Regions from separate parts of the Homo sapiens genome. Here region 2 is linked to region 1. A link means that fine-mapping ties the variant in region 1 to the expression of a gene that starts in the linked region. Tissue or cell type: aorta. Region 1 holds a variant in brackets; the other region holds the start of a gene. All regions are shown on one strand. Distances are between the middles of the regions.

What was found. PIP is the estimated chance that this variant, and not a neighbour inherited with it, causes the effect.
Region 2: it holds the start of TOX, and the variant in region 1 is fine-mapped to the expression of TOX in aorta (GTEx, PIP 0.93).

The regions. Positions count from the first base shown.
Region 1 is chr8:58,796,787-58,804,896 of GRCh38, reverse strand. No RefSeq gene overlaps it. Among named protein-coding and RNA genes, the nearest start is that of NSMAF, 140 kb to the right of the region's middle. The variant A/C (reference allele first, on the strand shown) is at 3,831.
Region 2 is chr8:59,115,125-59,123,234 of GRCh38, reverse strand. TOX (thymocyte selection associated high mobility group box) reads left to right here and starts at 4,088. Exons shown (of 9, transcript NM_014729.3): 1 at 4,088-4,349. The coding sequence starts at 4,248. It overlaps TOX-DT (TOX divergent transcript), which reads right to left and starts at 4,025. Exons shown (of 3, transcript NR_149031.1): 1 at 3,950-4,025; 2 at 3,164-3,278; 3 at 1-2,899. RefSeq lists silencers at 3,344-3,563, 7,402-7,451.

The sequences.
Region 1 (8,110 bases):
CCATTCAAATGTGACCGAGTTGATAAGGCAAAATGAGTCAAATAATGACTTCCAGTTAGTCAAATTATAGCCAAGGATGAAGTTGGTCTCTGTGATTATTTTTATTATTTGTGTTAAACGCAAAGAGGCCTGTCTGCATGGACCACAAGCAGTCCATGGGAAGCCGTGGCCACCAAAGCAATACAGTCAACCCTCGAACAATGCAGGGGTCGGGGCACCAACTCCTCCCCACACCCACGCAGTTGAAAATGCCTATGCAACTTTGACCCCCGCAAAACTTAACTACTAATAGCCTATTGTTGAGGAGAAGCCTTACTGATAACATAATCAGTTGAGTGACACATATTTTCTATGTTTTATGTATTATATACTGTATTCTTAAAGTAAGCTGGAGAAAAGAAAATGTTATTAAGAAAATCATAAAGAAGAGAAATAAGTTATTAACTAGTGTCAATAAGTGGAAGTGGATTATCATAAAGGTCTTCATCCTCTTCTTCATATTGTATAGGCTGAGGAGGAGGAGGAAGAAGGGGGTTAGTCTCGCTGTCTCAGATGTGGCAGAGATGAAAGAAAATTTGCACATAAGTGGACTTGCTTGCTTCAAACCCTTGTTAATCAAGGGTCAATGTATACTCTGGCTCAGATTCATTACTAAGATATTTCTTAAACTTATGAATGCATGACTTAAAATTAGCACATCAACAACCAATCCCTTTTCTATGGATCTCTTGCCCTTTGCAAAAGAGTTGTCCCACTCATTGGAAAAGTGATTAGACTGAACCATATGAAATTGCTAATATTTGACCTGTTTTATCTATGAAATGGTAATTTCATATGATTCAACCAAAAGGTGTGGGAATTAGAGACAATGGGGTTTTGACCATAACTTGATATGTAATTTCAAATGGAATTAGAAGTACTTTACAAAGTCCTGGGAGAAAATGCTCAAAGGAATAATCAATTATGTTTGTTTACAAGGTACCCCACTTAGAATGAGTCCTAGACAGGTATGTTATATTAAACAAGGAATATTTTAAATTACCAGTAAATCCCAATAGCCATTCATATTTCTTTGTTATAGTAAAAAATTCATATGAACATTTGTAATAAATAGGTTATCTGCTGGAACAGAAAGTTTTTGTTAAACATAGACGTCCTCATGTTTATCCGTTAAATAGAGATTTGACCTACATTTTCTTATTCCACTCATAATTGTCATTTTCTTTTTTTTTCTTTTATTTCTTTTTTTTTTTTTTTTCTGGAGACAGGGCCTCACTGTGTCACCCAGGCTGGAGTGCAGTGGCACAATCTTGGCTCACCACAACCTCTACCTCCCGGGCTCAACCAATCCTCCCACCTCAGCCTCCCAAGTAGCTGGGACCACAGGTGCATGCCAACACGCCTGGCTAATTTTTTTCTATATTTTGCAGTGACAGGGTTTTGCCATGTTGCCCAGGCTGGTCTTGAACTCCTGGGCTCAAGCGATCCACGTGCCTCAGCCTCCCAAAAGTGCTGGGATTACAAGCATGAGCCACCGTGTCCAGCCATAATTGTTATTTTCAAGGAAGGATAGAAACAGAAAATTCATCTCTTTTGCTGATTATTAAATATTAAAATAGTGGCAAGGCAAGGTTAAAAATTCGTATCATGAGTTTAACCTCTAAATCTAAGTCACCCTTCCACTTAATGGTTGAATTCATGTGAGTCACCCCATGGTAAAAATCTCTTTGTCTGCCTGAAATTCAACAATTTCCTTATCTCCAAAACAATTTGGAATGTCATAGCACACAGTAGATGCACAAAAAATGCAATGATACAAAGAAAGATCAATAAAACATCATCAATTATCCTCAACAGGAATTGTATGGTGTTTTCTTGATGATTTAAAGGCTCTTTAAATATAGATGGGAATTGAATATTACAGGCAAGCATTAGGAGTGAAGATGCAAATGTTTCATTAAAAACCTAGGGTTACAAAAAGATTGAAAGAATTTCAAAATGAGTTATGCCATATTTTTTTGGCCTACATAGTTGAACAAGAGCTTTTCTATTTGTGACAAAAGTAAAAGATCTAATACACACTAGTCTCACCAAGAAAATAAGAAGGGAGAAAAGAGGTGCTAGACATGTAGGGTGTCAAACACAAGAGAGAACATTCAGGAGACAAGTTTCATGGATTCTAAATTAAACTATTGATGAACAGGATACTGAATTTTTTTTTTCTAATTACCAAGTGTTAGTATGACTTGGTGAAGCAAGGAAAAGACTGTATTTCCTGGTTCTATTTTTTAGGATTTTCAAAGGCGATTTCTCTACTTTTATTTGGAACGATTTCCCAGTGTGGAAAACCTTTCCTAACAAAAAAAAAGTCTCCAAATCTGTACACAAGACCATTGCTTGGAGAAAGGGGATGGGGAGCCCCCTAACCTCACCAACCACGGAGGAGGAAGGCTGGGAGCCGCGGGAGGAAGAGGTAACTTCAAACCCAAGTTAGACACACTTGGCAATCTACGTGTACACAGAGAGATTAGACTTTGCCTTCTCATTTCATACTTAGCCAAACATCTTGTCATTTGTATCCAGCATCAGCCTGCAATGTAGTAGATGAGAAGAAGTGAAGATGAAGTTCTTGTTCCCGGATGAGAGACAACTGAGAACAATGACCTGTTATAGTTCAGCACGGTCAGAGTTGCGCCTAATTAATGAAGCCCACCAGCAGGAATCATTTCACATTTTATTAACAGCTTGCTAGCAAAGACATTTGAAAGTGAAATTTTATTCACACTGACATGAGGCCAGAAGAAAAGAACAGTGACTAGAAAATAAAATGGAAAGACTTACGATACTACAGAGAAAACAAAAATCCCATTCTAAAGAAAGAGTATGAACCAAACTACAGTATTTTAAAGTCTGGAGCGTCCCTGTTTGACAATTGTATGTTTACAATAAGCCCAAACATAATTGCTCTGATAGGCTGTCAGGGAAAAGATTAATTTGGCAAAGATTAGTATTGACTTGCTGTTTATTAAGGCTTTTAAACAGCTGTATCTGGCAGCATTCCTGTAAGTGGCTGTCATATCTGAAAATCAGCCTCACACCCTGGTGCTCGCCAGCTGTTCCTAAACAATCTTCTACCACTCTGAATGTCTTTCTCCAGGCCAAACAGCAAAAGCAAACTATTGCCAAATGAGCTTTTTTCTCCTCCTGTCACTTACTTCTGGTGGGGGTAGGGAGCTTCTGAATGCTGAAATGTCAGCTCAGGGCTGATGGCTTAGCTGATAAGAGGTGCCGGAAGCCAGTAGGTGGTTTTGGGTGCTAGATGAATACATTCCCCACATAGAGAGCGGTAGCGGTAGCACTGTTAGTCACCTCACACAGACAAAAAAACCACAGCTTGCAACTGTTGTAGGCAAAATGTTTTAAAGACAGTTAGAAAGTGATGATCAAAGGTTTAAAGCCATCAGAATTCCAAAATTAATGTTTTGTTTCTTCAGGCCAGGCACATGCCATATCTGCCATATAGCTAGGAAAAGACCCCACAGTGGGATGCTGAGAAGTTCAGTAGTGGCCATTCATCTTTAGCGCTGGAACTGGGATTTCTCCCAAGAACTCTGAAGGAGGACAAGCCACTTACTTGGTAAAGCATGCACCTTGCTTTTTGATTCAGTGGAAACCCGTAGAATAAAACAGATTTGGATGTTTTGAAGTCTGTCAAACACAAGGCAGATTGAGTTTTGTACTGGAGTAAGACCTGGTAGTTTCAAATCCAAGTATAGTCAGAAAAGCAATGGAAAGAATAACATTCCAATGGAATTAAACATCAGACTACA[A/C]AGGGCCCAGTGTTGTGGTGAAAGTCACATTAGCCTTTCCAATATGACTGCTTTTGGGGGGATTAATATCAGCCTTTTTGCATTGCATCAGGCAGGACTAAGTTGTCAGAGCAGATGCAAAAGGACATTGTCATCTCTTAACCCTTTCTCTGCCGGCACTTTCCATTACACTCTAAGGCATGGGGTTGGGGGAAGGAGGGAGGTGGCTTAGAAGCTAAGCTGTCTACAAGGACATTTCAAGCAGGTGTTTACCAACGTTTAACTTTTAAATAACTTCATTTTGGTGTCTCTGCTGTTGATGCACTCTGATGCTTGACATTTGAATCAGGATCAAATCCAGCCAGATTCCAAGGTACAGACAAATGAGCCATCCGCTCATCCCTGAATATGTCACTTTCCACCATGAACACCCTAAAGCTGTCTCTCTGGTCCTTTCCACATATCACAATGGGGGGTGGTAGTGGGATGAGAAATAACACTAATTCAGCACTTACAATCAGAGAAATAAAGTGACTATAGACATTGAGAACACAAGAAAGGTGTGCGTTTGCCTCAGCCCCACTGAGTCTGGCTCTGAAGCCCAGTCTGGGGCAAAGAAAAATCAAGAGGACAGAATTTACTTAAAAATTAATCTGTGACCATAAGTCATTGAGTGTTCTAAGTTCTAAAATAGCTCTGGGCTTAAGGGCACTGTGGTCATTTTCTAGGGCAAGAACTCTCTCTGCAGAGGCCTGATCACACTGAGAAATTAGGCCAAGTGCCAGTTTGTACAGAAATACACCCTCTTACTTGCTCCAAAGGTACCTCAGACCTTACAGCAAAGCAAGAGTTCTATCACTGGATTTAAAGCACATTGTTGCTAATCAAATTACAAGACTACAGCTTCAACCTTTAATCCCAAAAATACTCAATACTGCTTTAAATAGAATCAAAGAAAGGCCAGGGTAGGGGCAGGGAAAAAAATCCCTTACATGTATTCCTGTCATGCTTTGTAGGATAGCATGTGGCACACTTATTCTTCATAGCTCTTTTATAAGTTTGGTTGCTTCCCATTGGCCTGTAATTATTTGATTATTCAGACGAGTTAACTAAGTGTGGGAGATGAAGGGGTATACCAATTCCAAGACTGAATCTGATAAAGCCAATGAATTAAGTGAGGGGTCCTCGACAAACTGTTGGGACCCCACTATGATTACCCAAAAACCAACGAAGTTATCCCCATTGCTTGTGGTCCATGGGTAAAGTCCCTCCAGAAACCTAACATCTTGGTATAATGCACAGACGTGTAGAAATTGTCCTGTATAAAAGCAGCCTGTACTTTTATCTTACTAGATTTGCCTTTGCGAGGACTATCTGGTTTCTCTAGCCTGAGGAAAATCCTCAGAATTCATCTCTCTACAAATTTGGAACCAATTCTGGGGTATTTCATATTTTACTTTGTTTTTGTTTTTTATCAAGATAGACCCACAGAAACCTAAATCTTGTCTTAGCAAGAGTTTCATACATGAACAAAAGAAAGAACAATGTGTCTAAATGAAACTGCAATTTCCAGGTACTATTACAAAATACTTACACCTACAAAGCCATTCTAGCTGTTGAGTTGGGCCATTTTTAACATCTGGTTTCATGATGTGGTTTCAGGAGACCAACAAAACAGAAGTGACAGTCCTTTATAGTACTAAGTCTCTGGGAGTTTAGGTCCCCCTCTCTCTTTCTGTCTCTCCTCCTTTCTTTCCTTACTTCCAGGAGAATCTGTTACTTTATACTACCTATTGGTTTACTGAAATGATTCTGGTCTTATGTTTTCAGAACATTTACCTTCGACTTCTGGACAGCTGGAAAAGCCAGATTGCCTGCAACCAGAGCAAGTTGGCCTGCAGCTTCCCTTTGCTGATCACTTTGTTAATTCCCATAGAGATAGAAAGAGGTCCCATTTTTTTCTCCGCCCCTTCTCCTTTCTAATGTAGAGCGATCAGAAGTCTCTAAGGACTTTTCTATATGACTTCCCATTTCACACCACAGATGGTTTAGATAAAAACTATTAATTTTATTTATTCAAACAGCTTCATTTCACCAAAATGAGCCTATTTTTAACATTTTGCCTTAAGGTTTGTTTTCACATTTTTGAAGATGTGAAAGAGTTTTGCTGACGTCTCAGGTTTTAATCATCATCATTTCTGCCACCCAACAAGCTTTTGGACTACAGTGGAGCTGATGAGTCTTTTTAGATGGAGTTTACTTTTTAAAAAATGTCATTAGTATTGCTTTACAAATTTGGTTTATGTATATTTTCATACAACATTTGAGGGTTTGCATTTTTTCGTGAGGTTAGCTTTGATCACTTCAATTTCAGAATAAGTCCTGTATATGCTCTGTCAAACATAATGATGTCAGCTCTCTATCTTGGTTTTATCCTTATGTCATTACTTTGCAGAATATTTCCATTTGGACAACATACCATACTGGAAAAAAAATCTCTTCAGACACTCCACGTTCAAAGAAAGAAACTACAAATAAACAAGTCAAAACTTCATCCACTTTTGGTTGTTGTACAGGGTCAATGTAAACTGCTTGCTAGATGTTACCTGTGTTAACATAAGAAGAAAAAAATCTGCTAAGTTACTTAAAATTAAAATGGCAGGCGGAAGCATATAATAATAGTCTAGTGACCCAAACGAGAACTATAGTGTGGTGTGAAAACTTGACTAATTGCGGAAAACACAGATGATGAAACTATCCAACTTTGCTTTGAACTCCAATCTTCCCCCCACCCTTCCTTATCTCTATGGGAATATTTCTTACTGCTTTCCCCAGAGATATCACATGTGCCTGTGCCTGTGGGCTCAATGAGGAGGGAGAGGAAAAGATTCACACCCTAATTGTTTTCCCTTCAGTTATTCAGTAGCCCTCAAGATCTCCCATTCCTTCACAGACTTGTAAGGCACTAGGTATTGATGTTACGTATTATAGAATCAACCTAGAGCATGTCAGCATCCAAGCCTGACTTTTCTAATGACTAGATTTCCAATTAGCTCTTTAATTGTTTCTTTAACTTATCCAGATATAGGCATAACCATCCATCCCCAGTGGAATGACACAAACTCACTTTCACAGGCTGCGTATAGTGTAGCGAACATGCATGAATCTGAAAGTGGCACAGAAGAATCATAATCAATGCTGTATTTCTCAAACTTCAGTGCATTAAAAGTAGATTTCCGGGCTCCATTCCCAGATAGTCCAATGCAGTTAGTCTATAGGTATGACCTGGCATTTGCATTTTTAGAGCTACCCCAAACTATTTTGATGTCAGTGGCCATAGAATAATTAATAAATGGATGGCAAGTGGATCTTGCCTTCAACTTTAAGTCTCCGAGATTCTTTGTTGTCAATGGCCAGGTTTAATACCAACTTGAGGACTTAGCTTCTGATCATGAAAAGACACCCAACTAATAAAGCCCTAGGTTATCTGATTAAAGCTATTCAACAGTTTGTTTGAGTTACAAAAGAAGGTCTCTAGAGGCAGATTGGTCAGAATCAGTTCAGGGCTCCACAATGCTATCTTTCTCATCACCCTAAATGTGTAGACAATCATTGTCATCTTTGTTGTCTCTTATAGTATTCTAGGACAGAAGAAGCAGGAAGAGCAAAGAGGAAAAATGAAAAGAAGCAATGCCTGTCAAGATCCACAAACTTTCTCAGAAATCTCCAACAGACTTCTACATATGTCTCATTGACCAAAAATATCTCATATGTTCATCCCTAGCTGCTCATGGCCCTTTGAATAAAACCAAGGATCTATTGACAAAGACTGGGAGAGTAGATATTTGCAATATTAGCAGTGTCTACCACACCAACTTCCAGTCATTCAACTAAGGTCTTTTCTGCCATACCACCACTGGCTTTGCTCTTGAAAATTATCTGCAACGATCCCTAATTGCCAATTTCATATGAGTTGTATTCTGTATTATCTTCCTAGATTTCTCTGCTACTTTTGACCATACTGAAACTCTCCCCAAAACCTCTCTCTGAAGTCTTAGCTCTTCTAAATACTAAACCATAGTTCCACTGACCACAGACAGACAACTCTTATTCTGTGCCTAATAAATAATTGACATTAAAAGAGTTGCCTAAACCAAATTTATAACCTTCCAGTAAAGACTTGTTCCTCTTCCCAAACTCCCTTTCTTGGAGAATGGCATGCTGACCTACTTAGCCTTCCAAGTTAGGATTCTTTGTATCCTCCACCCTTCCCTCCTTTCATCCCACACACAGATAGGACC
Region 2 (8,110 bases), 320 kb before region 1:
TATGAGGTATAAAATGAATGGTATTTTAAAAGAATGAGGCTTTCTTTTCCCTAGAAATATTGCGACATCAGCTGTCACTGGAAAACTAGCCCATAAATCAGAAAGGCCAGTGAAGGGCTAAATATTAATTTAGTTATACAATACGGCAGGCTTTGATTTTAGTTTTAATATCTGGCATTTCAAAATCAACCCCTCTATATGACATTTCATTCTCATGTGCATCTATAGAGGGCTTCAACCCTTGAAGAAAAACTAACTCCAAAATCTAGCAAAGAATGCCTGCCAGGAAGTACCATGGTTTGTTGAATAATTTTTATAAGACTCTTGTAAATCACAGATAGGATTAACTGTCTAAAAGCTATTTTCCCCAAAGTAACACATTCTGTATGTGATTTGGAGACATTACTACAAGATTTAGGACTTAACCTACATAATACAAAGAATCAGTAGACATAAAATGTGGTCACTGAAAACAAGTATAAATTTGAAAACGTAACAATTTGTGAAACTATAATTAAAGTGAAGATGGGCAATGTTGAGGGAACAAAATCAAATGCTCCGTGTGGTTTGTAATTACTGATGAGGCTTTCCAAAGTAATCTGGAAAATTAAATAAGACTGCGAAATTCAATGTAAAGAAATTAGGACCAGGTCCACGATATAGTAGGCATTTCACAAGTAGGTACTGATAGCATTACATCAGCACTGGTAAAGACACGTTTTGTTTACAGGCACTCATTTTCTGGTAACTAGAGTACATAAAGTTCCTAGGTCAGGTGAATAAACTGTAACCTGGACCTTTACAAGTCATGCAAGTTTACTGACAGTAAATGGGCAAATTGCCAACTCCATCTCTAAAAGGCAGCGTAGGTGATGAGGTTTTGGGAGTGGTGATCCTCAATGTCCTCTTATGGGGATCAACACAAAATGACAATCCAGCCTATCTACTAAAATTTCATACTTTTAACATTTCCTTTGTTAAGGACTCTTTCCTTCTAGACTACCTTATCTTTCCTTTTAGGCCAGTGGTTCTCAATCTTTTCTGAAAATTAAAGCCACTGGAGAGCTTTTAAAAATTCCTGTGCTCAGGCCCTACCTGAAAAGAACTGAATCAGAATCTGTGCGTGTGGGGCTCTGGCATGAGTATTTTTCTAAACTGCTAAGATGACTTCACTGACCAGACTAGTTTGGAAAATACTACTCTGAAAGACTACATCTAGAGCAGGAACCATTTTAAGTAATTTGTTTTGTATTTTAAACCTATAAATAATACAAAGCATTAGTGTTTTTCACCACTCTCTCTGTTGATTAATGTACAAATGAATGAGTGAATGGACAAATAACTATTTTATTTATCCATGATGTGGAGTTGAATGTCCAGGAAACTGAAAAGTATTACAATGATGCTCTATTTTATTTTCTAAATTAAGAAAGATTTGCTCAGAGGTTTAGATATTCAACTTTCCCCAACTTTTAGTACAAATACATCCATTTAGTTTTTGATGGGCCTTGGATACAGCATTATAAAGTGAGCATTTTTTCAGATTACACTGAGATGGCCTCTCTTTGTATAAGTGGCTAGAAGTAAGAACTTTTTCCCCCAGTAGCTCATATTCCCACCTATCACACCATGCCATGTACAGTATACCACTTTAACTCCATACACTCCGATGGAAGAAACCAGACTCTTGATTATGTAGAAGAATGCACAGGTCTCATGCATTTGGATTTTCCCTTAAAGCAGAGAAAACTGGTAGGTCTGTAGAGGAAAGCAGGAGATATCATTATCTCCCAGGAGTCAAGATGCAGATAATGGTATTGTTCCAGTCTTGAACCATTTCATTTCATCTTCCTGATGTTCACGAGGCCATCAAACAGACATCAATGATGAATTCCAAGAAAGTTTTATTTTTAAAAATCAAGTTTTGATATAATAAATGTTGGATTGAGGATAGAAATTTAAGCTGAGAAATGTTTAATTTGGACCTAAAAAAGTTTATTATTACTATTATTATTGTGGAAGGAAATACATACAGGCACATTTTAGTATCTACAACAGTATTTGGGAAGCTGTTATGAAACACAAAACTTCATTTAAATTTTATTATAAAGACCTTTATTAGGAGAAAGGACATATTTTCTATTTCTTACTTTTATTTTGTGCCTTGAAGGACTTGTGAATGTATAGAATAATTATTTTTTCTTACTGCTTCCTCTTTGCAACCCAACCTCCACCAAGTCAATCGTGAAGGTAGGAAGAAAGCTGTATTTCTGTTACTTTTAAAAATGATAACGAGAAGAAATTAAAACAATGGCTTAAGAGAAAGAGGATGTAAGGAGTACAAAGCAAAACTTAACAAAGAGTTAGTAAAGGAACTTGCATTGACAATTCACTCAGCCATGTTAATTTTATCATTAATACTGTCTTCATCATTTTTTTTTCCAGGTCTCTCTGCTCGTATTTGCTTGGTGCTCCGAAATGCACGGGAACAGACAGCTATGGGAAAGCTGCACAGAGCAGTTGGCAATCAACATGTCCTAGAAGGGTGTGTGGAGTAGCAAAACAAGTGGAACGGATGAAGAACTTCCAAGCTCCTTCGCAGAGTTTTGGGCCCTAGTGTGCAGGGCTGCTCCCTCATGAGATGGAGGACAATGTCGCCCACACCTACTTGGACCTCTCACCAAGGACACTGCCCTCAGAGATAAATCTGTTGGACGGCAGCCAAGAGACCCCAAATTGTCTCAACCTCCAGGACACGGCAAGTTGCAAGTTTCCGAGTTGGGGAGGCAAAGCGGGAAAACATGTTTGGCGATTTCCTCCTGCCACTCACCGACCGGAGAAATGGGGAGGCGGACTCCAGGTCTTTCGTGGACTGCCAAGAGCCCTATAGGGCGTCCAGCTATAAAAAGAGAAGAATCCCATGAAGGACAACAAGCAAACTCATATGTTATCCCTTTAGCCGGATTGTGTGCTGATGATTGTTTCCCTATTTACACTTCGAATCACCCCTGTGGTCTTTTGTGAGTCCCCAAGGCAGCCTCAGCCTTCGCAAACCGTCCAGTGGGGCACGAATCTCGGAGGGGTGCGGGCTGCAGGCGGCAGAGGGAAGCCAAAGAGGGGCGGCTTTTCCAGGCCGTCCACCCCCAGGCGAGCTGGTCCTCACCCTTCGATCGGCTCGAGTCCCTCGGACAGTTGCCCACTCACAGCGTGCAAAGGGGTCGCACTCCCTGTGGGTTCTCCGCCCTCAGAAGCGGCGCTGCGCAGGAAAGTCACCTCCACTACGGGCCGGGAGTAGGGAGGGGAGCACAGTGACAGGGTTGGGGAACAGCCGAGGAGGAGTGGGGGTCGCGGAGATAGGGGTGGGGACGGCCGCGGAGAGGGCGGTGGGAGTGGGGTGGGGCCGGGGAGGGCCGGGGGCGGGGCTGCGGGGCGGGGTGCGCCACAGCGCCCCCTAGCTGCGCGCTCCCCACGGTGCCCTGAGGCCGCTGGTGGCTCTGGCTCGGCAGCCCCTTTGTGTGCGACGCGCTGGTCCCGAGGAGCGCGGCACGGGCACAGCGGAGGCCTCCCAGGGTCCCACCGCTTCTGTCCCAGCCAGGCCGTGCTCTCCTCCTTCTCCTTCTCCGCTCCTCCTTTCTCCGGTCCCCGGCCTCTGGTTCCGAACAGCAGCCATTGGGCCTTGACGAGCCCGCGTCCGGCCGCGCTCCCTACCCCGCCCGGCCCGGGACGCTCGCCCCCCTCCCGCCCTGTCCCTTCTGGATCCCCGCCCCACCCCCCCACCCCCCACATCCCGGGCCTCCAAGGTGGAGAAAATAAACTACAAGCAGAACAACTCAGAATCTCCAATAAAACGCCCAGTACCTAGAGCCCGAGCGCGTGTGCCGGGCTGCGAGGGGCGCGGGAGGCGGGGATGGGGGGGCGGGCGGGGGGGACAATGAGCGCATGAAGTTACCTGCCCGGCGGCGGCGGCAGCGGCGGCGGCGGGACCAAGAGGCGGCGGTGGAGCAGGCTGCGCGCTCGGCGCCGACGGGTGCGCGCCGCGGCTTGGGGGAGAGTTGAGCGCTTTTCCCCCCTCTTTTTTTTTTTTTTCCTCTTCTTCTTAAACAAACCACAAACGGATGTGAGGGAAGGAAGGTGTTTCTTTTACTCCTGAGCCCAGACACCTCACTCTGTTCCGTCTAAGCTTGTTTTGCTGAACACTTTTTTTTAAAAAAGGAAAAAGAAAAGGAGTTGCTTGATGTGAGAGTGAAATGGACGTAAGATTTTATCCACCTCCAGCCCAGCCCGCCGCTGCGCCCGACGCTCCCTGTCTGGGACCTTCTCCCTGCCTGGACCCCTACTATTGCAACAAGGTGAACGCTCTGCTTTTGTTTCCACCGTGTTCTTGCTGCTTGATCCTGGGAGGGGAGCGGCGGTGGCCGGGCCGCGGCGGGGCCGGCTTGGCGGAGGCCGGTCCCGGGCGCGCTCGGCTCGCAGCCCGCTGCAGCCTGCGTGCGCTTGGGTAGTAAATATTGTGGAGTAGCTCCGGGGGCTTGCCAAACACCGCGATTGTGCGGAAAGTGACACGATTTGCTCGGATTCTTTCCTTCCTGCTGTTCGCGGCTAAGGATCCCTGCCTAGGTTTGCCGGGGGGCGTTTAAAAAAATAATAAGAGAAAACCGTGGAATACTTTGGGGGTGTGTCTGGGGTCCAGGAACGGAGGCAGAGTAAGAGAATTCAGTTTATTTCCCAGTTCCCCCTTCTCTCTCCCTCCCTCCCCGGGCAGTGGGGGCTCGTGGCACCACTTCCCTTCTCCGGATTAGTTGCCAGGGGAGCAGCCGGGAGTCGGGGTGCAGGGACCTGGGAGGCGCCCCTGCCCCCCACAGGGAAAACTGCCCCACAACTCTTTTGTTTTCTCAAACCGGTTCCGGCAGCCGAGCCCGGGTTCGGACACAGGTCCGCGGGCCAGAGCACAGCGGGGTAGCTGGGTCAAGGTTTGGGGAACAGTTCCTGTTTAAGGGGTGCGCGCGGAAATTGCAAGTTTGTTGGGAGCCGGGCGAGCACGTCGCGTTCAAGTCCAAAGCTCCCGCACTCGCGGAGCAGGGTCCGCGGCTGAGCTGTACCCACGGCCCGCTGACCTCGGGTGCCAGGGCCGCGGGGGCCCGGGGAGAGGCGGATCATGCCGGTGACCCGGAGGTGGGGCGCTGGCCTGGGCTGCTGCGGAGTTCGGCTGGGTCCACCTATAGGACAGTCAGGGGGTACGAGGGAGGGGGTTACTCTCCCGGCTTCTCGAACTCTCTCATCCCAGAGAGGGAGGACACGCAGGGACCGGTCCCCCAGAGTGGTCGCAGGGGCACGACTGCCCACGCCTAGGGCTAGTTGGACGTGTCTAAGCAGTCCCGTTGGATGAACGTTGGCAGAGAGAATTGAGTTCTCTAAAACGCTGGGCGGGCCTTTTAGACGCCCAACTCTCGCTTGGTGATAAATCTGCCTGATACTCACAGCCCCTGCAGGCACATCCATGGCGACCCTCGGTGCATTCCACGGGAAAAATCGTTGGGACTCCCAACATTTGCCTGGTGGCGAGTCATCACCAAACGGCTTTTTTACCTGATACAGAGATATTTAGTGCGCTGCCTTCTCAGCCCTGGACTCCGCACCACGCGACCGAGTCGCAGCTCCGAGTCTTGGACAGTGTTGACACACAGGCAGGCTCTCACACACACACTTCCCCGTGGAGAAGCTCCTCGATGCTGTGTCCAGTGTGAGACCCACTCAAAGGACTGTGCTGTGTGCCGATGGTGTTTAGGCAAGTTAGAAAAGAGGGACATCCAGTCTTGAGCAAGGCAGAAGGGCTTCCATTGTACAGGGAGCCCTTCAGCTACGGGCAAGTTGAAAGGTACGGGGAACTTTGGCAAGCGCATAGGAGTTTGTGTGATGAAGTTTCATTATTTGCTGGTGACATAGTTCTTTTAGTCTAAAATCTGTTTTGTCTGTACACTCAAGTATTGTGTTACGTTTTATTTTGCTTATGACACCAATACTATTGCTAATAAAAAATAATAAAGTTGCAGCCCTATCTTGGAGAGTAAAGACTTATTCCACTGTAGTTACCGGAACCAAAAGCTCAGAACTATTTTGGCAATGAGACTGGACAAATCTTATTAAGTTTATCAGTGATTTTAGGCCCCAAAAAGAAGTTAATGACTTGGATACACATTTCACTCCTCGTTCTTGTGATAAGTAGGGTCAGATTTAATTTAAAAGTTAAATGCTTTGGAAAATCAGGAATTACTTCAATATATTAAATCATTTTCCAATTAAGTGCTTTAAATAATTTTAGTGGGTTGTGCTGTGAATTGAATAAATTAATTTAGAAAGTATTCAGAATTTCTTTACTAGCTCATTGAAGTTCCTTTTAAGTCACCCCGTGTATAAGAAGCAAACTGTTCTTTTTAAATGCAAATTAGGCACCCTTTCTGTAGACTAGTTGCGAGTCTTCTATTTAACTTATCCAGAGAATAATAGATTTTTTAAAATCCAAAGTCATAAGACATGTTTCTAATAGTGGAAGAAGACTTCATGGAAATGTTTCTCCAGGGACATCTCTGGCCCATCTCTGTGTAGCAGTCCATCAGATATATTTGTCACTGGTCCCGATTATATTAAATGTACTGGATAGTTTTCTAGGCCCCACAAATCCCAGGCACTTGAGTTTTTTCACTCCACCATGATTAGCATTGGTACAAAATTTCTGTCCAGCTCCACAATTGTAGTTGTGCATAATGCAGTCAACTAGCATTTGTTTTTGCAATGACATGAGTGGATTTGCAGGGAAATGGAAGAAGGACAGAAGTTTGGAAAAGGTGAAGTAAGAAATCTGTGCCTACATTTATTAAAACAAGTTGGATCAGACATCCCCAAAAGAACAATACTGCAAAGTAAATCTTGCTTCCTTCGGAGGCGTAATGAATATGTAGCTTACTACAAATAGCAGTCAGTTTGTCAGGTGATTTGTTTTTAATAGGGTGATAAGATCATAAATTACTAATTATCTTTATTTTAAACCTGTCAACACTTTGCTTATTTAAAGTTGGTGTGCTAAATCCCAGCGGAACCAGTATCTATCTGTGCTTTAGAATCCTACAACTGTAGCTACAGTTTCCCGGTGACATTTTTTTCAATGTCAGAAGAGACTCTAATGGAGAAAATGAATATTCTCTTCCTGAAGCTTTCTAAACTAAAATGTGATTGTTTTACTCTGCTGACACTTTCCGGCACTGCTGCTCTATAGATTGCCAAAATGCTACTTACATTTTTCAGTTAATAAACTCTGGAGGAGGCATTTTTGGAAACGGTTTAATCTAGTATTGCTCTACTGTAAGACTAATACACGTTATGAACATATCACTATGCAAAGTAGCCTCCATTTTCACATAGCCCATTGTGGGAACAATGCGAATGATGTTGGTTAAGGCAAGTGTGTGAGGCATCTCTTACACAAACAGCCAGAACGGATGGCATGTTGCTGTATATAGGTCAGTGTTGGAAATAGCAGTGTAGCTCATAGACTGGACAGACACATGGAGGCTGGAGTTAACAGTATTCACCTCTTGCAGCCTAATGCATGGTTATATTTCAGACATTGAAAGATGAGTACCATAGTGGAGTTTCATCTAATTAGACTATTTTAAGTAACATTGTATCCCTTAATTGAGCTGAATGCTACCAAAATAAATTGGATTAAATGAGCTTACAATTGGAGTTCTGTAGTGATATAGTCTTGTTTTCTATTCTAGTTAAAGATGTCAGATCATCAGTTTAAATATATACCTACAGAGTAATAACAGTTCTTTTCAGTTTCTTAGTGCAGCGTCATTTCCAAAGATTGTTTTCACTGGTTTTATGCTAAGATAGGACAAAGAAGTGGTACTTTTTCATTTTTACAACGATGTGATGTGTTCAGTTATTGCTCAGTATCTGCCCACATAAGGAGTAGTAATACAATTATGTTATGACATGGCTAATGACAGGGATGGTGACCTCGGCCTGCAGTGGGAGGAGAAATAATGGGCTTCACTGTTCTCAGTGGTTGCCTTTATGGAATCATGTCCTGAATCTTTCTTTGGTTGAT